Regions from separate parts of the Homo sapiens genome. Here regions 2, 3, 4, 5 and 6 are each reported to be linked to region 1. The links are microRNA targets in miRTarBase. Many come from high-throughput screens and were not tested one by one. Region 1 holds a microRNA gene; each other region holds the end of a gene's coding sequence.

Region 1 (4,089 bases):
GGATGCTATTGGCATTTAGTAAGTAGAAGCTGGGGATACTGCTAAAACATCTTACAATGCACACAACAGGCCTTCCCCTACCCTCTATTAGCCCAAAATGTCGAGTGCCAGTACTGGAGAAACTCTGGGGTGGAGAATGTGTCATTTTGTTAGCCTCTGGAAACCCACTGGCTAGAACATTGCCTAGGGCACAGAAAACACTTAAAACTTGTATAAATGAATAAAAACACACCATCCTGTCTTTCTCCTTGAGTTTTATCCTGATACTGTAAACTGCCCATTTTCAAAATACTGATCTTGTGCTCAGTCTCTTCTAGTAAACCAACCTTTGAAGCTTCATAGCATCAATTTTTTAAAAGGTATCAGGTACTATCAGAGTAAGGACTTCTTATAACTTCTGATTCCTAAAGACATCAGAATGTTGCTGCACTGAGCTTTTCAATACCCATAACTCCTGGTAGTAACCTCAAGAAGAGTTAGGGCTTATTCTGATAAAAATACAAGAACAAAAAATAAAAGCATTTTACAAAATATTGTCTCAAGGATAAATTACCAATTAGAATATGAAAAGGACTTCTAAAAAGACTGAAATGTCTTCAACCACAAATGTGACAGATTCATGAAACATTTGCTGAACATCAGCCATGTACAGAGCGCTATACTAAAAGAATATAAAAGCTGTTTGAAATATACCATATAAATATGATGTCTGCTATAAACTAATATTGACATTGTATCTTTCCAACCTTTTTAGACACATCTTGTTTCAATTCTTGTACAGGGGACTCATTTCCAACTTTGTATGCAGTGTTCTCTGTTTCCTGTTTGAAAAAGAAAAGAAATAGAGACCAAATGATGACATCTTTTCTTTAAAAATATGCTTTAAAGGGGTACAAATGAGAAAATGTAGCATTAATAAATCAAAGGCCCTTAAAGGGCTTTGATTTCTTCTTCTTCTTTTTTTTTTTTTTTTTTTTTTGAGACAGAGTTTTACTCTGTCACCCAGGCTGGAGTGCAGTGGCACAATCCTGGCTCACTGCAACCTCTGCTTCCCGGGTTCAAGTGATTCTCCTGCCTCAGCCTCCCGAGTAGCTGGGATTATAGGCGCGTGCCACCACACCTGGCTAATTTTTGTAATTTTAGTACAGACAGAGTTTCACCTTGTTGGCCAGGCTGGTCTTGAACTCCTGACCTCAAGTGATCTACCCACCTCAGCCTCCCAAAGTGCTGGGATTATAGGTGTGAGCCACTGTGCCCAGCCTAAAGGGCTTAGATTTCTGAATACTGATAGATGCTCAGAAATTTTATGCCAAATGGGACAATGTAATTTGCATAAGAAAGTTACCCATCAGCAATATTCTATTATTCTGCAATAGGATATTTACCTTTAAATGTGAAAACTTGCTCAACTTTTTAACATTAAAAAACTGTAATGGACGATAAGAACTTCTACGTACTTTTATAGCTAAAAAGGATTAAGGATTTAAGCAAGGGGCTGAATAAAAATTGTTATTTTCCCCAAAGCATTGCTCCATAAATATGCACAAATACAAAAGTTTATAACACAGAAAACCACATTCAGGGAATAGTTTTCTTAAAATTCTACATGCTTTAGATAAAAGAAATCAAGACTTAACCAGAAGTTAAATGAAGCCCCTAAAAAAACTATGAAAAAAGATGAAAAAAATTAAACCCACCAAAAATACATATATATCTACGTATACATTTATATACACATACGTACATATATATATATATTTGGGAGGTTAGAAATGGATACTGCATTTCTGCTGGAAAAAATTAGGGTAAAATAAGACAATCATATATTTGCAAATCTCAATACAATACTCTTCTCAATCTTAAGTTGTCTATTTATAGAAGCACAGCAATTTGAATGCTACTCTTGATACTGAGGAAAAAAAACCATAATTCTTTGTGCACATCACAGAGTTTGTTAGAGGAAGGTCATTATAACCATTTTAGACAGATAAAGGACTCAAGGCACATTAATTATTTAGGTGGCACTTATACAAGTATCAGGATATGATCACAATAGGCTCAATAATGAAATTACTCCAGAGATTATTAAAATGTTAAAGATTTAACGTGCCAGTGAAATTTCTGTAGGACTTGCAATATCTTCGAGCACTGAATTCCTCCCCCAGAATTTGGAGAATACTACCAATCTTACACAGATTCTTCTAGAAAAAAAAAAATGTTTCATGGACTCTTAAGTATTAGATAAAATCCAAACAGTACCAAGGCCCATGAAGGCCTAAACATGACATAGCCTCTGCCTACATTTTTGATATCTTCTACACTCCTCATCTCCCTCTCATATCACTCCCCCACAATTACATTCTGGCCAATAGGATGATTCCTTGCCATTAGGGTCATAGCTCAAGTGCTATTTTATCAGAAAATACTTCCCTGACCATCTCAAAATAGCCTTAGCTGACTCCTTAACTTTCTATCACATTATCCTATTTTTCTTTTTTTTTTTAACTTTAAGTTCAGGGGTACATGTGCAGATTTGTTACACAGGTAAACTTGTGTCATGGGGTTTTGTTGCACAGATTATTTCATCACCCAGGTATTAAGCCTAGTACACATTAGTCATTTTTCCTGATCCTCTCCCTCCTCCCACCCTTCACCCTCTGATAGGCCTCAACATGTGTTGTTCCCCTCTATGGGTTCATGTGTCCACATCATTTAGCTCCCACCTATAAGTGAGAACATGCAGTATTTGGTTTTCTGTTCCTGCATTGATTTGCTAAGGATAATGGCCTCCAGCTCCATCCATGGCCCTGCAAAGGACATGATCTCGTTCTTTTTTATGGCTGCATAGTATTCCATGGTGTATATGTACTACATTTTCTTTATCCAGTCTATCATTGATGGGCATTTAGGTTGATTTCATGTCTTTGCTATTGTGAATAGTGCTGCAATGAACATGTGTGTGCATGTGTCTTTATAATAGAATGATTTATATTCCTTTGGGTATATACCCAGTAATGGGATTGAGGAGAGGATGTCAAACTATCCCTGTTTGCAGACAACATGATCTTATATCTAGATAACCCATAGTCTCAGCCCAAAAGATTCTTAAGCTGATAAACAACTTCAACAAAGTCTCAGGATACAAAATAAATGTGCAAAAATCACTAGCATTATTATACACTAATAACAGCCAAGCAGAGAGCCAAATCAGGAATAAACTCCCATCATTTGCAATTGCCACGAAAAGAAAATACCTATGAATACAGCTAACTAGGGAGGTGAAAGGAGAACTACAAACCACTGCTCAAAGAAACCAGAGATGACACAAACAAATGGAAAAACATTCCAAGCTCATGGATAGGAAGAATCAATATCGTTAAAATGGCCACACTGCCCAAGGCAATGTATAGACTTAATGCCATTACTATTAAACTACCACTGAGATTCTTCACAGAACTAGGAAATTTTATTTTAAAATTCATAGGGAACCAAAAAAGAGCCTGAATAGCCAAGGCAAATCCTAAGCAAAAAGAACAAAGCTGGAGGCATCATGCTACCCGACTTCAAACTATGCTACAGTGCTACAGTTACCAAACAGCATGGTACTGGTACAAAAAGAGACACACAGACCAATAGAACAGAATAGAGAATACAGAAATAAGACCGCACACCTACAACTATCTGATCTTCGACAAACCTGATGAAAACAAAGAATGGGGAAAGGCTTCCCTACTCAATAAATGGTGCTGGGAAAACATTATCCTATTTTCCTTCATTGCACTTATCGTTCGAAATGACCTTATTTACTTGCTTATTTTTTGTCTCTTCCCTGTCCCACTAGAATGTAAGCTCCATGAGAGATGGACCTTGTTTGTTCTATCTACAGTTTGTTCAGTACCTAAAACAGTGTCCAGCACTAAATAATCATTTGCTGAATGAATGTTGAATGATGCATGCTCTGTTTTTTCTTCAGTTAATACATACATCTTAAGTTTACATAGGCTTTAATTGGATCCTGGTTTTATATGAAAGAAGGCCGGGCACAGGCTGAAACCCGGAGTTTGAGACCAGCCTGGGCAACACAGTGAG
Region 2 (4,089 bases), not on the chromosome of region 1:
TGGCACCACTCAGGGTAGGAGCTCCTCTCCTCATCTGATGGGTTGCCAAAGTGCTAGAAGTCAGGGGACTGGGCTGAGCCAGTGAAAGGTATTGCTGTAGGGGTGTGTGTGTGTGTGTGTGTGTGTGTGTGTGTGTGTGTGTGTGTGTATGTGTGTGTGATGCATGACATGCAAATGCATGTCCGGGAAGCCTGCCCCCAAGTCTCATCTCAGGCCATGTAACACAGACTGTCTTTCCTCCCCAGATCCGGCCCCACATCGCAACTCTTCGTAAGTACACCTATGGCAAGCACATTCTGGCCAAGCTGGAGAAGTACTACATGAAGAACGGTGTTGACTTAGGGCCCATCTGTGGCCCCCCTAATGGTATCATCTGAGGCAGTGTCACCCGCTGTTCCCTCATTCCCGCTGACCTCACTGGCCCACTGGCAAATCCAACCAGCAACCAGAAATGTTCTAGTGTAGAGTCTGAGACGGGCAAGTGGTTGCTCCAGGATTACTCCCTCCTCCAAAAAAGGAATCAAATCCACGAGTGGAAAAGCCTTTGTAAATTTAATTTTATTACACATAACATGTACTATTTTTTTTAATTGACTAATTGCCCTGCTGTTTTACTGGTGTATAGGATACTTGTACATAGGTAACCAATGTACATGGGAGGCCACATATTTTGTTCACTGTTGTATCTATATTTCACATGTGGAAACTTTCAGGGTGGTTGGTTTAACAAAAAAAAAAAGCTTTAAAAAAAAAAGAAAAAAAGGAAAAGGTTTTTAGCTCATTTGCCTGGCCGGCAAGTTTTGCAAATAGCTCTTCCCCACCTCCTCATTTTAGTAAAAAACAAACAAAAACAAAAAAACCTGAGAAGTTTGAATTGTAGTTAAATGACCCCAAACTGGCATTTAACACTGTTTATAAAAAATATATATATATATATATATATATATAATGAAAAAGGTTTCAGAGTTGCTAAAGCTTCAGTTTGTGACATTAAGTTTATGAAATTCTAAAAAATGCCTTTTTTGGAGACTATATTATGCTGAAGAAGGCTGTTCGTGAGGAGGAGATGCGAGCACCCAGAACGTCTTTTGAGGCTGGGCGGGTGTGATTGTTTACTGCCTACTGGATTTTTTTCTATTAACATTGAAAGGTAAAATCTGATTATTTAGCATGAGAAAAAAAAATCCAACTCTGCTTTTGGTCTTGCTTCTATAAATATATAGTGTATACTTGGTGTAGACTTTGCATATATACAAATTTGTAGTATTTTCTTGTTTTGATGTCTAATCTGTATCTATAATGTACCCTAGTAGTCGAACATACTTTTGATTGTACAATTGTACATTTGTATACCTGTAATGTAAATGTGGAGAAGTTTGAATCAACATAAACACGTTTTTTGGTAAGAAAAGAGAATTAGCCAGCCCTGTGCATTCAGTGTATATTCTCACCTTTTATGGTCGTAGCATATAGTGTTGTATATTGTAAATTGTAATTTCAACCAGAAGTAAATTTTTTTCTTTTGAAGGAATAAATGTTCTTTATACAGCCTAGTTAATGTTTAAAAAGAAAAAAATAGCTTGGTTTTATTTGTCATCTAGTCTCAAGTATAGCGAGATTCTTTCTAAATGTTATTCAAGATTGAGTTCTCACTAGTGTTTTTTTAATCCTAAAAAAGTAATGTTTTGATTTTGTGACAGTCAAAAGGACGTGCAAAAGTCTAGCCTTGCCCGAGCTTTCCTTACAATCAGAGCCCCTCTCACCTTGTAAAGTGTGAATCGCCCTTCCCTTTTGTACAGAAGATGAACTGTATTTTGCATTTTGTCTACTTGTAAGTGAATGTAACATACTGTCAATTTTCCTTGTTTGAATATAGAATTGTAACACTACACGGTGTACATTTCCAGAGCCTTGTGTATATTTCCAATGAACTTTTTTGCAAGCACACTTGTAACCATATGTGTATAATTAACAAACCTGTGTATGCTTATGCCTGGGCAACTATTTTTTGTAACTCTTGTGTAGATTGTCTCTAAACAATGTGTGATCTTTATTTTGAAAAATACAGAACTTTGGAATCTGGGTTTGTGCTTTATTTTAACCTCTCCCCCCACCCCACCCCCAGTGTAGTTCCCCAGGACAGCCCTTTCCTGCTCATGCTTCTTTCTGCTTGTTTTGTTGTTTTGTGAGGGTGGGAGGAGAGGTGCCAAACTAATGGCTCTTTGAGCCCAATTTAAACCAAAGATGTTTGGTTCAGCCTGCCCAGTGCATTCAGAATCAAGATACTGCACATACAAATCCAGATTTCCAACTCTGCACATCAGAATATTCTCCTTGGGCCCCTGAGATGAGCTGTCTGGGTTACAGCACCGTCTGTCTGGGCCTCTCCTCCTCCGCGTTTCCTCTGTTTGGGCTGCTCCATTTGCTCCCTGCCAACCTGTGCCCACTACTGAGGCCTGCCAAGCAGTCCAATGTCTGAGCATGCTCATCTCTTCAGACTGGGGAGCCTCTTTTAGCTTGTAACACAGGAGGCTGGAGCTCACAATTGTGCCCGTGGCCCTAGCCTGAGGATGCCATCTGCCCTTCTTCACCGACTTTGCTCCAGGGGCAGATTTGGTAAGTGTTGGCAGTTACAGGCTGGGTCCAGCCAGAGAGGCCAGGTGGAAGCCCACACCAGCTGGTGTCTGGAAGTGGAGCGTCAGGATGGTTGAAGGAACTTCACATGGGCCCCTCAAGGGGAAGGGCTAATCACTAACAGGCCCTGGGAATAGGGGGAGAAGAAAAGGAAGCTGAGGGGATGCAGGTTTCCAGTCCAGCATGTGATTTTGCCTCAGCAGCTGTCGTTGGGGCCCTTTCCCAGCATTCCCCACTGCAGTAGCCATCATGGCGCTTGCAGAGGTGGCATGCTGCGGGCATTGGGAACTGCAGTCCATGCTGCTCTGATAGCATGATTCCAGTCAGATTGACCTGGGGTCACATGTGGGTCTCGCCACTCTGTGTGCACTTGGGCAAGTTAGTTCACCTCATCTTTCACCAAATTCCTTGCTGGAAGTGGACCAAAGGTAACAGATCTATGTAAAGTGGCTCTCTTGTCATGTCATGGGAAATTATGGCAATTAAATTGTGTCCAGCACACTGGTGTAATAAATGATACCAGTTTCCCTGCACAGTTTTTGATGAACAAAACTATCTTTGTTCATTAGTTTACATAATAATGTCATTTGTTGTGAACCGACTCTGCGTCAAGTCACACATGAGATGGTTTTCACATGTTCTCAACAACTGTTCTGGGAACCAACAGCCCTGTGAAGAATGCGGCTGTCCCTATCTCATAGATGTGGAAATAGGTCCTAGGATCTGATGCAAGTCTTTTGATAGACCAACTCTGATCAATAAAGCTTTCCCCTTAGTTCATCATGCGAGGGGGTGGGCATGGGGGCAGACCCCTCCATCTGCAGGATTGGGTTTCATGGAGTGGCCTGGGCTCTGGGCCACCCCCTCTTCTGACCACCATTACTCTGCTACCAAGTCCGTCCCAAGGATTCTATGGCCCGGGCTGTCGTCACACACTGGGTACCGGCATTCTTGGTCTCTCTTCCAGAGTCCCTCCAATGTGCATTCCTCAGTTTATGTAATAACCCTTACCCTCTCACAGTGCTTTACAGTTTACAGAGTACTTTGTATTTGAGATACCATTGGTCCTTGTAGAAAGCTTTAGGGAGTCAGGGAGAGATGTTTCAGCCCTTTATACAGATGAGGAGTTTGAGACTTAAGCCCCGCAGTCAGTAACCAAGTGAGGATTTTATCTGAGGGTTCCTGACTCCCAGCCCAGTGCCCTGTCCATGTCATCCTGCCCTTGCCACCCGCCATTAGCCCCATGAATGGCCATCTTCTCTTTTTGAGGCTCAGAGGGATTGCAGAAGGGTGAGGCCCTGGGGAGTGAGGCATCCTTTTGAGGGAGGAAACCTGTAACTTTATGTAGTTACCATCTGTAGCCACACGAGGGTGCTGCCACCTAAAGCGAGTATTATGGAGGCCTAAGGGTTCAAGGTCAGGGTTGGGATGGCTTTCCCCTGGATTGAAGGGCTC
Region 3 (4,089 bases), not on the chromosome of region 1:
GGCTAACAAGGCGAAACTCCGTCTCTACTAAAAAATACAAAAAAATTAGCTGGGCGTGGTGGCGGGCGCCAGTAGTCCCAGCTACTCGGGAGGCTGAGGCAGGAGAATGGTGTGAACCCGGGAGGCTGAGCTTGCAGTGAGCTGAGATCGCGCCACTGCACTCCAGCCTGGGCGACAGAGCCAGACTCCGTCTCAAAACAAAACAAAACAAAACAAACAAAAATTAAAATGAACTACAGACCTAAATATGAGCTAACATTATTAAATTATTGGAATAAAACATAGAAGTAATTTTTTTTTTTTGAGATGGAGTCTCACTCTTGTTGCCCAGGATGGAGTGCAATGGCATGACCTCGGCTCACTGCAACCTCCGCCTCCTGGGTTCAAGAAATTCTCCTGCCTCAGCCTTCTGAGTAGCTGGGATTACAGGCACCTGCCACCACACCTGGCTAATTTTTTGTATTTTTAGTAGAGACGGGGTTTCACCATGTTGGCTAGGCTGGTCTCTAACTCCTGACATCAGGTGATCCACCCGCCTCAGCCTCCCAAAGTGCTGGGATTACAGGCATGAGCCACAACGCCCGGCTTACAAGACTTTTTTTTCCAGATGGAATCTCGCTCTGTTGGCTCAGGCTGGAGTGCAGTGGCGTGATCTCAGCTCACTTCAACCTCCACCTCCCAGGTTCAAGCGATTCTCCTGCCTCAGCTTCCCGAGTAGCTGGGATTACAGGCATCTGCCACCATGCCTAGCTAATTTTTATATTTTTAGTAGAGACGGGGTTTCACCATGCTGGCCAGGCTGGTCTTGAACTCCTGACCTCAGACCATCCACCTGCCTTGGCCTCCCAAAGTGCTGGGACTACAGGCATGAGCCACCATGCCTGGCTACAAGGCTTTTAAAAATTAGCTGGGCATAGTGGTGCACTCCTGTAGTCCCAGCTAATCAAGAGGCTGAAGTGGGAGGATCACTTGAAACCAGGATTTGGAGGCCGCAGTGAGCTGCTGTGGTGCCACCGCACTCCAGCCTGGGCAACAGTGAGATCCTGCCTGTAAAACCAACAACAACAACAACAGAATTATGTAGTTTCACCAAGAGGTGGAAGGTGGAAGAGCCTCACTGACATTCAGACCAATTTAATGACAGGTCTTGGATTGACATATACATATTTTGAAACGAAATTTTGCTCGTCGCTCAGGCTGGAGTGCAGTGATGCAGTATCAGCTCACTGCAACCTCTGCCTCCAGAGTTCAAGTGATTTTCCTGCCTCAGCCTCCAGAGTAGCTGGGACTACAGGCACCTGCCACCACGCCTGGCTAATTGTGTATTTTTAGTAGAGATGGGGTTTCACCACGTTGGCCAAGATGCTCTCGATCTCCTGACCTTGTGATCTGCCCGCCTTGGCCTCCCAAAGTCCTGGGATTACAGGCATGAGCCACCACACCTGGCCTGATATTTTATTTTTTTGAGACAAATTCTTGCTCTGTTGCCCAGGCTGGAGTGCAGTAGCGCAACCTCGACTCACTGCAGCCTCTGCCTCCCTGGTTCAAGCGATTCTTCTGCCTCAGCTTCCCCAGCAGCTGGGATTACAGGTGTGTGCCACCACACCCAGCTAATTTTTGTATTTTTGGTATAGACAGGGTTTTGCCATGTTGGCCAGGCTGGTCTTGAACTCCCGACCTCTACTGATCCACCTGCGTTGGTCTCCTAAAGTGCCAGGAATACAGGTGTGAGCCACCATGCCTGGCCGGGTCTTGGATTTTTATAAGAAGAAAAAAAAGGTGTGGGGTAGGGGAGAGCCAGGTGCAGTAGCTCATGCCTGTAATCCTGGGAGGCAGAGGTTGCAGTAAGCCAAGATCACGCCACTGCACTCCAGCCTGGGCAACAGAGTAAGACTGTCTCAAAAAAAAAAAAAAAAAGAAAAAAAAAAGAAAATTAAGGAAATAAAGCAGTTCCACTAGTGATGTTTTTCTGCACTACTGTTTAATGCTACCGACATTTTTGCCTTAAGAGAACAAGCTTAAAAGGCATGCTCACCCTGCGATTAAGACGCATCTACACAACACAAACGGATGCTGAGCAGAAATGACCCAGAGGCACCATCGTCTTTTCAAGCAGTTTATTTCCATTTTCAGTTCTAATGTTGACTTTTTCATAAATATTCACCTGGAATCTCCACTAAGGCTCCTCATGAGCAGGGCCCAATTCCTAGAATGTGCTTGGTGAGTTAGCCCCTGGTATACAGTAGAGGCTCGGCAAATATTCTACAGCCTCCTTTCTAATGATTTCCCAGTGGCCAGCGTTTCCCAACATGTGAGATGTACAGTTCAAAAGGCCACAGGGAAACTGACACAGCAGGGCCATTTCAAAAGGGGAGGATCTTCCAATTCTTCTGATTTTAGGAAATTCTGTTGCGTGCTAACCTTGAACACATGCTAGCCTCCCTTTCTCAGATTTGGAAAGATCTAAAGTAATAGTTATTTCTCTAAAATGAAACATATATTTCATTTTATATATATATATATATATTACAGATACCTTCTATCTATGGCAATTTATGTTGGATTATTCCACCTATGGCAATCACATCAAGTTTTCTTTCCTTTTTTTTTAAGAGATGGGGTCTTGCTATGTTGTCCAGGTTGGTCTTGAACTCCTGGGCTTAAGCTATCCTCTCACCACGGCCTCCCGAAGTGCTGGGATTATAGGTATGCATCACCGTGCCTGGCCAAATTCTCTTTGTAAATACATTTGAGTGGTAGTAACTAATTTTAAAGGAAAAAAACCTGAAGTAATCTAGAGGTGGAACACAAATGAGGTAAAATATTAGAGAACTGATTCAGCAAGGACTAAAGATTGGGACGCAATGCCCTCTGCACAGTCTGGTTCTTGAGGTTGCGGTGGGTGTGTTTCCAGTGGCGTAGGTCGGTCAGATACTTCTGGCCTTTGGGAGTGCGTGGATGTGACGCGGTCAGTGCCACATGTGAACCAGGTGCTGCGAAGTCCTGTGAAAGTCACACACCATATGGTGCACTACAAAGGTATAGGTTAAAGGCTGAAGCTTGAAACATACAAAAAAAAATCCTCTATAGAGCAAGATATATTCCTAGTATTCAGCTGTTCCCAACCAAATAAAAAAAAAAATTAAGGAAAAAAATAAAAAAGGAAGCATTCCATCAGTGGCTGTATTGAACAAGTAATGTATCATCAAGATATAATCACCCAACCTTTATTATTCCAAGTGCACTACTGTCAAGAGACATGTTACAGCCGCTAAGGACAATGTACTTCAGCTTTGAAACCTGGGCAAGAAGCCACACGACTGCATGAGACAAGCCGTGAGAGGCACTGCTCAGGAGGAAACGCTGGGTCTCTTCACCAAAATTAGATTACAGCATATTCTGGGAGCACACGCCCTTGTACTGCTTACAAACCAAGGGAGAAAGACCAACGCATCCATCATCCCAACGCCTTCCCTGGAACAGGGAAATGAGCATCATTCTGTGGGAACAGCGTCTTTAGACTCTGCATCAGTTTGTTCCACTTCAGCATCCGCGGCAGCTGGGGCAGGAGCAACTCTGGTTTGGGCACTTTCTGCCTCTGCTGCCATTGTCTCGGCGCCATTTCCAGCCTCTGCAGCCTCACTTCTGGCCTTGGGGACGCCCTTCTCATGTGCCGTTCCACAGGGCACCTGCTCTTCCAGCAGCTGTTCGGCTTGAGGATCACTACCGGCCTCCGCTGTGTCCGTGGGGCCTTCGTCCTCAGCCGGCTCCCCGCTGCTCTCTGGAGCGGGCGCTCCTTCCCCATCTACGGCCCTCACTGCTGCTGTAATCACCTCTGCTAAGACGTCCGCGGCCACCTCCTCAGGTGTCTCTTTCTTATCCTCACCTCCTAAATTGTCATCTCCTTCCATTTCTGGATCAACAGTTTCACTGGTGAAAGGGTCCTCACCCTGGCCAAAGAGGAAACACCGGTCAGCGTGGTGTAAGCAGAGCTCAGGAGGCCCATGATTGCGGGGATGTCAGCTTTTCAGAACCAGCAGTCCACAAGGGAAACACTTCTGTAAATTATGCCACAGGAGTGAATCCTAC
Region 4 (4,086 bases), not on the chromosome of region 1:
CCTGGCCTCCGGGAGTGGGGGACTTGGGCTCGCGGCGGGGACGGACCACCCGCCCAGCTCGGCCGGATCTGCAGCCCCTTCCCGCTCGCCAGTGGAGTGGAGGCGAGGCCCACGCCTACCGGTCCTCGCACGCGGTCTCGCTTTTCTCAGCCTGCCGGCCTGGTGTGTCTCGGGCCGTAGGTGGCGACGTGGGCGAAGGATCAGCGTCCGCGCGGGCCGGGGGCGCAGCCATGGCGCTCGGAGGCCTCTTTGCGGGCCTGGCCGGGCGGCGCGCATGGGCCGCCGGGAGCTGGCGGGTCCCTCTCTTGCCCACCGCGGACTACAAGCCCCACAAGGCCGCGCGTCGCGGACTACAAGCCCCACAAGGCCGCGCGTCGCGGACTACAAGCCCCACAAGGCCGCGCGTCGCGGACTACAAGCCCCACAAGGCCGCGCGTCGCGGACTACAAGCCCCACAAGGCCGCGCGGCGGGCATGGGGGACCCGTAGTTCGGCAGCCTCCGCCACGTGCCTGGAGGGCCCCGCCCCCTGTTTTTCACCACAAACTGAGCCGCACAAAAACCCTGGAAAAAAATCAATAAACATTTATTTGATACAGTCATTTTAATACATACAGTGATGGCCCGTCCCCACGCCACTCGGGACCAGGGCGCGGGGCGGGGACGAGGACCGGGGACAGATGGTCACAAGGCGGGCGGGGCCCGAACTCACCGTTGAAACATCTCGCAAATAAACACTTTGTAGATAGAATATATATGTATATATATATGGTTACAAGTGATAGCTGGAACCTCTTTCAAAATGCACTTATGTACTGAGAACTGGCATTAAAAAACCCAAACCAAGAAACCCAAAGCACGGGACGCCCGGCCGCGAGGCAGGGGAAAGCCTGGGGCCCCAGACCCGGGCCTGGGGGAGCCGCCTGGGGCCCCGCCAAACGCGGCACACGGGGACGGCCCCTCCCGGGGTCAGGCTCACTGGCTCCTTCCCTTCAGCGCCACCAGGCAGGAGGGCCAACGGTCACACAGGAGGCACCCTCACCTGCCTTTGCACCAGCAAATAAAGTGCATCCCATTTTCGTGTGAGCGTCGGCCCGGTGAGTCAGCCCTTCCGGGCCCTTTCCTGTTCTCAGGGCAGGGGGCGTGCGCTGAGCCAGAGGTAGATCTGCAGAAAGGGCCCCGACTGGGCCTCGGGCAGGGCCGGCGCCCACCACACTCTGGGGGTCAGCTATGCTGGTCCCTCTCACTGAGGGCTCCTGGAGGCCTATGTGGGCCAGCGTAGGGAGTGGGCAGACCCTGCTGAGCTCCACCCAGGGCCCCACCCCTTGGGAGGAGGGCTCTGCGGACCAGCATGTGGCAGAGGGAGGGCAGAAAGGAGGGGGTCAGACCCAACAGCCACTTCTGGCAGTAGCCCCCACGCCTACCTTAAAGACAAAGGGGGTTAAAGTGCTAAACATCAAGGTATCCAGGACTCCTCTTCCCACACCAGGGATTATCTGTGGGCTTTGGGAGTGTCCCGGAAACTCACCCCCAGCAAAAACCAGACCCTCTTCTCTTCTCCCCAAGGGCCAAGTACCTGAGAGGCTGGGGCAGGCACCACACCCTGCAGGTGTTCAGGTCCACCCTCCTCCCGCCATTGGTGGCAAGGACAAAGTGCACCTAGGCCCCCGCCCAGTGCCTGCTCCCCTCCCCTCCCCTCCCCTCCCCTCATGAGGCTGCCCCAGCAGCAGCTGCCAGACCCCACCCTCCACCTCCGGCTCCTCCAGCTCCACCAGTGAAGCTCTGGGACACAGGAAGGAATGCCTCCCCCGACCCTCTGACGCTGGGTCACGCCCATCTCTGCCCCAGCCTCCATCCTCTCATCAGGCCGAGGTGTGCGTGGGTGGGGGGAGTCCGGGTCTCCACACCCACTCCCTGGCACATCTGGCAAGGGCTGCTGAGGGTTGGAGCCTTCTGGCCCAAGGATGAAGCCAGAGACAGGAAGTGTTCTGCAACCCCAGTCCCCAAAGTGCTCCTGGAACTTGTCTCCCTACTACTGCAGGCCAAGCCCAGTGGGGCCCCTTCTCCCTGGGGAATGGGGGAGGGTGGGTGCTGGGGGCAGAGGCAGTGCCCAGTCAGTACTGCCTCCCTGAGCAGCAAGGGACCCCAACCCCAGAGACCCACGCCCTGGTCCAGCCCAGCCCCCAGGCCCACCGTCTGCACCAGGAAACCCTTAGCACCAAATGTCGGATTGCGAGTGTTTGTATAAAAAACAATTTAAAAAAAAGGTTGTTACTTGTCACAGCAACAAGACTGGCATCCACTACACCCAGGAGACACACGCACACGGGCAAACATCAAAATTCTCATCGTCCAGGGTCAGTGGGGCCGAGCCCTCAGCCCACTCCCACCCACCCTGGAAAATGGCCTCCCTCCAAACCTACCCCCTCTGAGCCTCATCCTCCCTGCAATGCCGTGGTTGGAAGGCAGGACCCCAGGGAGGGAGCCACAGGCTGTGGCCACCTCTTCCAGGCACCCTGGACTCCCTGCCTGACCCCTGCCCTACCTATAGACCCAGCCGTCCTCAGGGCCACAAAGGGGCAAAGACAGCTCTGGAGCTGCCATCAACCTGCTGTGACTTTGGCCAAGCCCCTCCCCTGGCTGGCCTTCAGTTCCCATATCAAATGACCACACAACCAGAAACAATGGGGGCAGGTTAAAAAAAAAAGTGGGGAGGGGGCTCCCATGAGAGCTTGGCCACTGGGCCTACCCAGATTGGCAGACAGAAGGCTGCCTTTCCCCCAGTGGCCACTCAGAGCCAGGCCAGCTCTGCCCAGCTTCCTGCCCCACATGCCTATGGGCCCCAGCAAGACCCCAGGGCCCGAACTAGTCCGTCCCTACTCCACGAGGCTGCTCCAACCTAGGCCTGCAGTGCCAGAAGGCTGAACACTGGAGGAGAGCACACTCCAGGGGCCCCACACCCCCAGGGCTGGCAGCTGTGTTGAAGGGCATCAAGCTTCTGCTGCCCTGTAGGTACAAGAAGCAAAACCCCTCCCTTGCCCCAAGCTGGGAGAATTACAGACAGGCCTGGGGGGCAGGGCCTGAGCACAGCAGGGATCGCACTGACAAAGGAGGAGCAGGGGTGGGGGTAGTGGGCAGGCCTGGAGAGGTAGAAAACAGAAGCAAGGGGACCAAGTGGGTGGCCAAGGGCAGGCCGGAGCCTGTCAGGTCAGCATGGCAGTGGTCAGACAGGGGTCTGTCCTGGGAGGTAGCTGGGGGTGCTGGAGTTCCAGTGTTGGGTGGAGGTGAGGCCAGGATGGTGGCTGCCCGTGCCAGGTTGCTCAGGTGCCCTCACCAGCCCAGAACCACAGGTCACCAGGGATGCCTGAGCCTTGGGGTAGCCAGGGAAGGGACCCGGCAGGGCCTGAGGAAGCGGAGCCGGGGGGCCAAAGGCCATCTGCCTACTCTGCGCTGCAGCCCCTGTGGCACCAAGACCCCAGACACATTCCCATGAGGAGGGGCAACCCTCCTGGCTATTGCACTTCTGCTGGGCACACCTTGGGGAGCCCCAACCCAGGTGTGCCCTGTGGCAGCCTTAACAGGGGAAGGGCCACCTTCAGGGAAGGGAGAGTGGCTGGCTGCCCCACTGGACGGATGAAGAGGCGGGGGTGGGGGATGGAGAACTGGAGGACAGAGGTCCCGGAGCTGGCCCTGCCTTGAACAGAGGGCGGTGTGGCGGCTGCATGGGGGCCAGGCCCCACGCACCATGCTCACTTTTCAGGCGCCTTGCTGACTCCCACCTTCCGGCCGGTGGAGCCCCGGGCCCCCTTGTCTCTGCATCCTGGAGGCCAGTCGTCCCGGCGCGGGGGCAGCTTGGCCACAGGCTCCTCTGGGGTCCGCTCCTTGGGCTTTCGGCCCCGCTTCTTTCCACCTGCCAGATTTTTCTTCTTTTCCTTCTTGGGCACCAATGAGTCCTGGCTCCTGTGTTTGGGAGGTGGGTCTGCTGATGTTCGGAACCAGTTCTGGGGAGAGAAAAGCGCTGATGAAGACCTGGGACTGGATGCTGAGCACCTGAGCCAGGCATAGCCTGAGAGCTGAAGACCTGTCAG
Region 5 (4,089 bases), not on the chromosome of region 1:
CAATATAAGTGCTTCCTTTTCATTTTATTGTAGACCACATATTGATAACTAGAAGTTTTAAGTGTTACATGTATGTTTTTAGATTTGCAAGCAGGTTCCCTAAATAAAATTTAATATGAGAGGGCAGACCTTGAAAAGGTGGTGGGAGGTGGTCCTGTGGTTTTTTTTTTTTTTTTAAATCACATGAAATATTTCAAAAATAGGAAGAAATCTATTCATTAAAAGCTCAAAGATCAATGAGGTACTTTTGGCTTTGGCCAAACCAGTGTGGGGAAAACTGATTTGTGATTGGTAAAAGAATTTGAACCAAGATTGATTTGACAGGCTTTGGTAATGCTGCAGTATTTTCAGTTGTTCTTTCTCATTTTTTAAGGCAAAGCAGAGAGCAGAGGTTCTTCAGTCCACGCAACGGTTCTTCTCTGAACAGCAACAGAGCAAACAGATAGGAGGAGGCAAAGCCCAGAAAGTGGACAGTGATTCAAGTAAACCTCCTGAAACACTGACCGACCCTCCTGGGGTCTGTCAGGAAAAAGTAGAAGAAAAGCCACCCCCTGCACCCTCCATAGCCACCAAACCTGTTAGAACTGGACCAATCAAACCTCAGGCGATCAAAACCGAAGAAACAAAATCTTAAAGGCTATGGTTTATTGCAGGGGATTGGGAGGGGGGCGGGAAAACATGGAGAATTAAGTCAGATAATGCTGGCAGCCAAAGGGGCAAAATGGCCTGTGACATTATCCTGTTCAGAGCTTGGAGATGTACAAGGGACATAGGAGCAATTTACACTGACACACAGCTGCTGTACCAGTGAAAACGAGGCTTTGCAAGCTTGTACCTACTATATAACATGTGCTTGGTTGATGGCCATGCATCTTCAGTCAGAATTTATATATAAATGTATGCACCCATTTTTTTGAGTGCATATAATTTAGACCTAAAAATCCTTATGATTAGATGAAACACCAAAAATATAAGGAAAATAACACAGCAGAGGAATAGCTCAGCCTGAACAGTGTGATGGTCCCAGCTACTACATCAGATGCGGTTTTTTTGCTCCCTTATGTTCTTCGGATATGGTTATGGCATTTGTAGGCTTGGAGGTAAAGAACTGAAGATAACTGGTGCTGGATAGAGGAGCCTTATTTTTTATTATGGCAGCTTGCTATTTTTATAACATGGTGATTGAGTTGAACACAATCAAAGTACAGTAGTAACTGATGTCCCCTTCTTCCTGGATGAATGAGCAGATAAATATTGATGTCAGCATCCTTGAACCATATCAAAGTGAGCAGTGTTTGGCTACTGCTTCTATTTGAAATGGTGCTGTGTTTTGGTTGTGGTCTGAAGCTTTGAAGCGCTACTTAGCATCTCCTTTCTTCCATGGAGCTCTCACGATTCAAACATGACAGATTTGGTAAAATGCTGGTTAGGTTGAGTCTTCCTTGCCCCCACTCAGTCATCTTTGTATGAATCCCATGATTTGGGGGTTTTTTTCTTTTTTTTTTTATACCAGTTTTTAGCTGGTGTTTATGAAGAACAGTGAGTACCTAGAACTGTGCCACTAATTAAAGGAAATCCTAAGAAGGTGCATTTCTTTACAGAGCTGTGTCATGCCATCCTTTGGGCCCTCTGCTGGAAAAGTAGAATCAAGTCTCAAATAATGCCTTTTTAATTGTATCCTCTAGTATTATAGATATAGGACAGTACTGTATCATACCTCTGTGAATGTAAAATATCTTGTACCTGCTTTATGATACGTAGTAGTGACCGTGCTTTATCAGAGCTGTTTTTAATGATGTTATTCTAGAATGTTTTCTTTCCAGATGATGATTCAGAAGCTAATTTTAAAAAACGGTGCCAGGTACCACAACAGTAACAGAACTTTGCAATTTTCTGGGGTTTTGTTTTTTACCTTTTTCCCCCCTTTTTTTTAAATGGAGTGTGCTGGATGTCTCTATAATTTTATTCAGATGACTGCAGAACCTGGAAAAGCTGTTGCTGCTATTGATGCATAACATACTGCTATTGGTCTTTTTATATAAATATATATATATATATACATATATATATATAATTTGAATTTTTGGAAACTTTAGCTGTGCTGTCAACTTTGGAAAAAGTATCCCGGTTTACTGTGTTGAGTTGGCATTGTACAGAAATTAACAGCCATATTGGTCTAGAAACGTTAAACTTAATTTTTTTCCATTTGTACAGGGGTAACGCACTGTATTAAATATGTAAGGTCTTATCTACATGGGTTTGATTACAGAAACTAATAAAGTATTCTCTAAATAATGATTCTTGGAGCTTATAATCATTTCCTAAAATCTGAAGCAAGAGGGTTTGTCATGTATTAAAAATAGTGGTCAAGAGTACTGGCCAGTCGCAGTGGCTCATGCCTGTAATCCTAGCACTTTGGGAGGCCGAGGCGGGTGAATTGCCTGAGCTCAGGAGTACGAGACCAGCCTGGGCAACATGGTGAAACCCCATCTCTACTAAAAATACAAAAAAAAAGTACATTATACAGCCGGGAGCAATGGCTCATGCCTGTAATCCTAACACTTTGGGAGGCCAAGGGAGGTGGATCACCTGAGGTCAGGAGTTTGAGACCAGCCTGGCCAGCATGGCAAAACCCTGTCTCTACTAAAAATACAAAAATTAGCTGGCCTGGTGGCAGGTGCCTATAATCCCAGCTACTTGGGAAGCTGAGGCAGGAGAATTGCTTGAACCTGGGGCGGGAGTCAGAGGTTGCAATGAGCCAACATCAAGCCACTTCACTCCAGCCTGGGCAAAAGAGTGAAACTCCGTCTTAAAAAAAAAAAAAAAAAATTACATTATACTCTAGAAAAGGATTATCATCCAAAGCCTTGACTTCTCACTTTGAAGAACTCTGGAGATCATTCAACTAAAGTAACTATTGTCATGGCAGATAGTCATGGCCCCTGTTCTGAAGTAGCCAAACTCATATTGAAAACAAATCTGTCAGCCGGGCGTGGTGGCTCATGCCTATAATCCCAGCACTTTGGGAGGCTGAGGTGGGCGGATCACCTGAGGTCAGGAGTTCGAGACCAGCCTGGCCAACATGGTGAAGCCCTGTCTCTACTAAAAATACGAAAATAAGCTGTGCGTGGTGGTGCATGCCTGTAGTCCCAGCTACTTGTGAGGCCGAAGCAGGAGATGTCAAGGAGTAAAATTCTCTTGATGCACAGTGCCAGATGTAGAAGAGTTTCACCATCTTTTGGTCAGAAGCTGAAGGACCAAAAATAGATCTCAGTATTATTTATGTTTGTATTTTTCATAGCTTTGTTAGCATGTTCATGAACATCACCTGCCCTAAAAGGCTATAGGGCATTTATTCTATCATTTACTCAATTTATGAAATGAAATACTGAGGGATTGTAATTACTTAATCCCATGTTCAGAACATACGGCTTCCAGACCCAGCTTTGAGAAAACTAGTCATTTAGTCACTAATGACGCATGTGCCTTCTTAACTCATGGATACTGCGATTGTTAAACACAAGATACTCAAGTTTTGATGGTTTTGTGTTGGGTAGAGACAGGGTTTCTCCATGTTGCCCAGGCTGGTCTTGAACTCCTGAGCTCAAGCAATCCACCTGCCTCAGCCTCCCAAAGTTCTGGGATTACAGGCGTGAGCCACCGCACCAGGTCTGATACGTATTAATAGGCCCTGCCTTGATCCAAGTTTTCAGTCTAGGGTTTTTCTCAAAATATGCTCTAAATTAAAAGCTGTGGTTTATTGCAGGGGATTGGGGGAAGAGGTATGATGGATAAGAATGGGAATCAAGTACTTGCCTTACTAAGTCACTGCCATTGTCAGTATTTTTCATATTCTAGTTTTTAAGTTTAATCCTCCTAAATTTTAAGACCTAATGGGTGACCAGCTATACAGCTTGCATTACCCCCACTTGCAAACCAGCAGGCATGTGCTATTTGGTTGTATTAACTGTTAAAATACCACTAATACTTTGGGTCCTTCGCTAGAACCTACAATGGAAAAATGGCACCAAAAGCATATCGAATGAAAGTAAGATAATGTATATAAGTGTCTCTGCAGTTGGCCATGTA
Region 6 (4,089 bases), not on the chromosome of region 1:
ACAAGTTCTACTTCTAGGCTGTCACAGTTTTTTGGTTGCATTGAAGAATGTTCATGAATGATTGGTTTGATTAATGTTAATGAGTTGAAACATTTTATGATGTTTTTGTGGCTAGTTACACATAAATTGCCTTAAATACATGTATTCATTTTGTTACTTTTACCACTTTTATTATTTATTATATGCTCAGAAATTTGGTAGAGGGAAAAGCTAGTTTAAAATTTCATTTTTTTATGTTTAGGCCAAGATTGAAAAATGTGGATCGGAGTAGTGCTCAGCATTTGGAAGTTACTGTTGGAGATCTGACAGTCATTATTACAGACTTTAAGGAGAAAACAAAGTCACCGCCTGCATCTAGTGCTGCTTCTGCAGATCAACACAGTCAAAGCGGCTCTAGCTCTGATAACACAGAGAGAGGAATGTCCAGGTCATCTTCACCCAGAGGAGAAGCCTCATCATTGAATGGAGAATCTCATTAAAGTTTATTTTCTCCAATTTCTTAGTCACTTCTGTCCTACCATGCAAATACACAGATTATGCCAAGAGGTACCACATTTTCATGACAGATACATTCATGCACAATCCATAATTTGAGTTTTACATAAAATAGAAATTTGTTAGAATTTGTTAGATTTTATTGCAATGATGCCTACCAAACATTTCCAGACTTAACATTTTGGTCTCTGCAGTTAAGTGCCATGAAAATGTGGTTGAATTATTCATTATGCAGTGTTATTGGTAAGTGTATTTTCACTTTTAGTTTAGTGAATTCTAACACATAATTCTTGAATTCTCTACTATTGGCATGTAACGAATTTAAATTTTTTATAACATAGTGCAAGCTGCCTAAATATGTATTATTTGAGAATTGTGAAACAGATAGTTATATGTATACAAGTCAAAGAACAACTTAACTATTGCTGCAACAGGTTTTTCTTAATGGTTATCCTCTTAAATACACCTGCTGGTACTTGGTGTGGTTAAATAGGAAAATTGTTATTAAATAAAGAATTTGTATGAACCTTTGCCAATGTTTTTGACACGTTTTACTAATTATTGTTCCTGAATTATGTTTCTGGTTTTATCTATTTTTTGAGGTTTTTTTGTTTGCTTATTTTTCAAAACATTCATTTATTGTAATGTTTACTAGCGGACTAGTAAACAATAAAACATTGATTATTTAGCTTTATAATTCAGGTTTAGTGCTATTGTCATTGAACACTGGTATTTTCTGTATCATATAAAACATTAAAATTCAAATAATTATAAGCATTTGGCAAAAACAAGAGAAAAGAAACTTGCCATATTTTACAAGCTGCAATTTTAGAAAAGCTTTAACTTAATGATAGTTTTATCATTGTTTTCTTGTCCCAAACTTATCCAGGGCCATAGAAGTATGAATCTAATTAAAACAGAAATGGGAATTATTGCACAGAAATGGGAAATAACTAATTTTAAATCAGTCAAATTGGCTTCTTATTAAATACAATAATTCTTATGAAAATCATAGTACCCTATTTTCAGACACAGCTGCCAGTTTACACATTTCTCAGTATCCTGAAAGGAAAAAAGTATAGCCCCACTTATACTATGTAAAATTACCAATAAAATATTTTTATGACTACAGATTTTGCATTTTTGTTTACAACTATTTAAAGAGTTTTATGTTGTATTTAGAATTTCAACCTAGAAACCACACAGTACTTAAATTCTCCTGGGGTCTCCTGCTTTCTCTTAACCATTTGCTTAATATATATCTACCTAAAGGAGACTTCTGAATTGTAAATGAACTTAAAAATAGAATGTGGATGCAAAATATCACATAAGACATCATGATAACATTTGAAGAAAAAATAAAACTGTAGACCCTAACAGTTGTGATATTTGGTGGTTTCATGTGGTAATGTAATTTTCTGTTTAATTACAGTACTTTTTACAGGCACAGTGGTACTGTCTTTTTTGTAAGATGCTAGTTGTGAAATACAATTAATTGCATACAGTAAAAGTCTGTGATTAAAACATTTATATACCTCATTCTTTAGTGTTGTTAAATGAAAAATTAAAATTTGTGTTTATTATAAGATACTTTCAATGGAATACCAGCTAACCAGATATGTTCCTTTAAAACATGAATTTTTTTGTCTTATTCTGTTTTTAACATGTTTCAAATGTTTTATACATTTTTGGAGATAGTAAAAATTTAAAAATGTAATAGGGAAAATATTTAATTTTTAAGTCAAAAACTATGCTTTAAAGGAATTACATCTTATGATCAAATAACTTTCAGGATGTATTTTAAATGAGCTGCAAGAGAGAAAAATCTGACAGGAGATGGGATTTTACCTGAATGGAGCATACTCATATTTCTACATAGGTGGGAAGATACTCATCTTTCTACATAGACGGGAACACGGTGTAGCATGGAGATTAAGCGTGCTAACTGACACCTCATGTTTGAATCCTGTTGTAGAATGGAAATGAGCTTAAATTACCCAAGCTTACTTTCCATCTATAAAACAGGGCTAATAATGGTAATCACATCTAATTTATAGGGTTTTTGGGAGGATTAAGTCAATCCGTGTAAAATTCTTAATTATCTGACACATACTGGTCACTCAGTAAATGTGAGCTTTTACCATTGTTATAGGTAAAATCCCATTACAAAAATACAAAAATATTTTTTGTAACAGTTATTTTCCTGCCCTCTTGGATGACCTAAAGTAATAGTGTTTTATAGATTTCACTAAATTTTCAGTGTAATATCAGATGTTTTCTCTGGATGCAGAAAGACCATCTTTCCATAATTAAAGAACCTGGTGGGTGTGCACTATGAGATTGGAGAAATGAATTAAGTTGACTTGAAATTATTTTACTTTTATTAATCACAGGTATCTCAACCTGCCTTTGTTTCACCCTACTTCAAGTACACTTCCACACCAGGAAAACAGACCCAAATTCCATAAACAGAACTGACGTTAAAATATGCGAAAGATTCAGAACCTAGGTTTAGGGTACATGTTTTTCTCTGTTTCATGAACTTACAGTGTGGTTTGAGCACTGGGTTCTTTTAGCCAAATTCCATACAAAAAGAATTTGGATGTTTTCCAGCATTTATTACCTTACTTTGCTATAAGTAAGAGTGAAGATAGGCCGGGTGTGATGGCTCATGCCAGTAATCCCAGCACTTTGGGCTGAAGCAGGCAGATATTTTGAGCCCAGGACCAGCCTGGGCAACATGGTGAAAGCTCATCTCTATGAAAAAATTTGAATATACATATATATATATATGTATATTTAAAAAGTGAATATAATTTGAGGCACAGAAGAATATTCTTAAAACCTTTTGTATTATACAATAGAAATAAAGGTTTTATTTTTATTAAATGCTTTCCTAAAATGATAGTGGATAATAGACAAAGTGAAAACATTTAAAAAGGAAGAGAAACTTCAGCCTTTCTAAGTTGATAGCATGTTTATTAACTTTTAGATAAAGATCCTTATAGACTGAAAGAATGTAGCCTCTGCATTAATGGTAAATGGTCTAGAAGTTTTCGTTTCCACTGAGGCTTCCGCCACTCGCTTTTTTAAACTTCCTGCTATGGTTTGGATATGGTTTGTCCTCACCAAAACTCATGCTGAGGCCTGAGTCCCCAGTTTGATTGTGTTGGTAGGTGGTGCCTTTAAGAGGTGATTAGGTCATTGAGATGGATTAAAGGCTTTCTCATGAGGCTCAGTTAGTTCTGGAATGGATTCGCTCTTGCAGGAATGGATGAATTCTCACAAGAGTGGGTTGTTATGAAGTGAGGATGCTTCTTGTGTTCTGTTCTCTTTGCCCTCCTCAGTTCACCATCTGCTTTCCACCATGAGTTGAAGCAGCATGAGGCCCTCATCAGATGGGCTCCCTGATCTTGGACTCCTCAGCCTTTGGACTCATAAGCCAAAATAAATCTGTTTTCTTTATAAATTGCCCAGTCTCAGGTATTCTGTTATAGCAAAAAAAAAAAAGTGGATTGAGATACTTTTTTGCTCTGCTACTTACCTCTTTTCCAGAATCTTTTAAGGACTTGATGTAGGAACTGAGCTATTTAG

Evidence for each region. Region 1 holds the annotated microRNA hsa-miR-1277-5p (AAAUAUAUAUAUAUAUGUACGUAU, at 1,737-1,760, opposite strand). A microRNA usually pairs through its seed, bases 2 to 8, with sites in the 3' UTR of a target mRNA and lowers its output. Matches are read on the target gene's strand: a 7mer-m8 pairs with bases 2 to 8, a 7mer-A1 pairs with bases 2 to 7 and ends in A, and an 8mer does both.
Region 2: miRTarBase lists PUM1 as a target of hsa-miR-1277-5p. Seed matches in the 3' UTR shown: 7mer-A1 at 1,031-1,037.
Region 3: miRTarBase lists AKAP8 as a target of hsa-miR-1277-5p. The part of its 3' UTR that is shown has no 7-base or 8-base seed match.
Region 4: miRTarBase lists ZNF512B as a target of hsa-miR-1277-5p. Seed matches in the 3' UTR shown: 7mer-m8 at 748-754.
Region 5: the mRNA of PRRC2C is a reported target of hsa-miR-1277-5p. The part of its 3' UTR that is shown has no 7-base or 8-base seed match.
Region 6: the mRNA of YAF2 is a reported target of hsa-miR-1277-5p. The part of its 3' UTR that is shown has no 7-base or 8-base seed match.

What each region holds. Positions count from the first base shown.
Region 1 is chrX:118,384,072-118,388,160 of GRCh38, reverse strand. It overlaps MIR1277 (microRNA 1277), which reads right to left and starts at 1,767; the gene lies at 1,690-1,767. WDR44 (WD repeat domain 44) reads right to left here. Exons shown (of 20, transcript NM_019045.5): 3 at 747-821.
Region 2 is chr1:30,929,499-30,933,587 of GRCh38, reverse strand. It overlaps PUM1 (pumilio RNA binding family member 1), which reads left to right. Exons shown (of 22, transcript NM_001020658.2): 22 at 246-2,082. The coding sequence ends at 377. Among named protein-coding and RNA genes, the nearest start is that of SNORD103A, 4.2 kb to the left of the region's middle.
Region 3 is chr19:15,351,421-15,355,509 of GRCh38, forward strand. It overlaps AKAP8 (A-kinase anchoring protein 8), which reads right to left. Exons shown (of 14, transcript NM_005858.4): 14 at 1,965-3,950. The coding sequence ends at 3,495. The region is part of intron 3 of LOC124904643 (a long non-coding RNA gene); the gene reads left to right. Among named protein-coding and RNA genes, the nearest start is that of BRD4, 21 kb to the left of the region's middle.
Region 4 is chr20:63,956,141-63,960,226 of GRCh38, forward strand. ZNF512B (zinc finger protein 512B) reads right to left here. Exons shown (of 17, transcript NM_020713.3): 17 at 564-3,999. The coding sequence ends at 3,748. UCKL1 (uridine-cytidine kinase 1 like 1) reads right to left here and starts at 276. Exons shown (of 15, transcript NM_017859.4): 1 at 120-276. The coding sequence starts at 232. UCKL1-AS1 (UCKL1 antisense RNA 1) reads left to right here. Exons shown (of 1, transcript NR_027287.2): 1 at 1-845. RefSeq lists silencers at 1-242, 833-1,042 and enhancers at 373-432, 462-1,349, 1,350-2,235.
Region 5 is chr1:171,591,214-171,595,302 of GRCh38, forward strand. It overlaps PRRC2C (proline rich coiled-coil 2C), which reads left to right. Exons shown (of 35, transcript NM_001387844.1): 35 at 374-2,298. The coding sequence ends at 634. Among named protein-coding and RNA genes, the nearest start is that of MYOCOS, 29 kb to the right of the region's middle.
Region 6 is chr12:42,156,979-42,161,067 of GRCh38, reverse strand. It overlaps YAF2 (YY1 associated factor 2), which reads left to right. Exons shown (of 4, transcript NM_005748.6): 4 at 242-3,964. The coding sequence ends at 479. Among named protein-coding and RNA genes, the nearest start is that of GXYLT1, 14 kb to the right of the region's middle.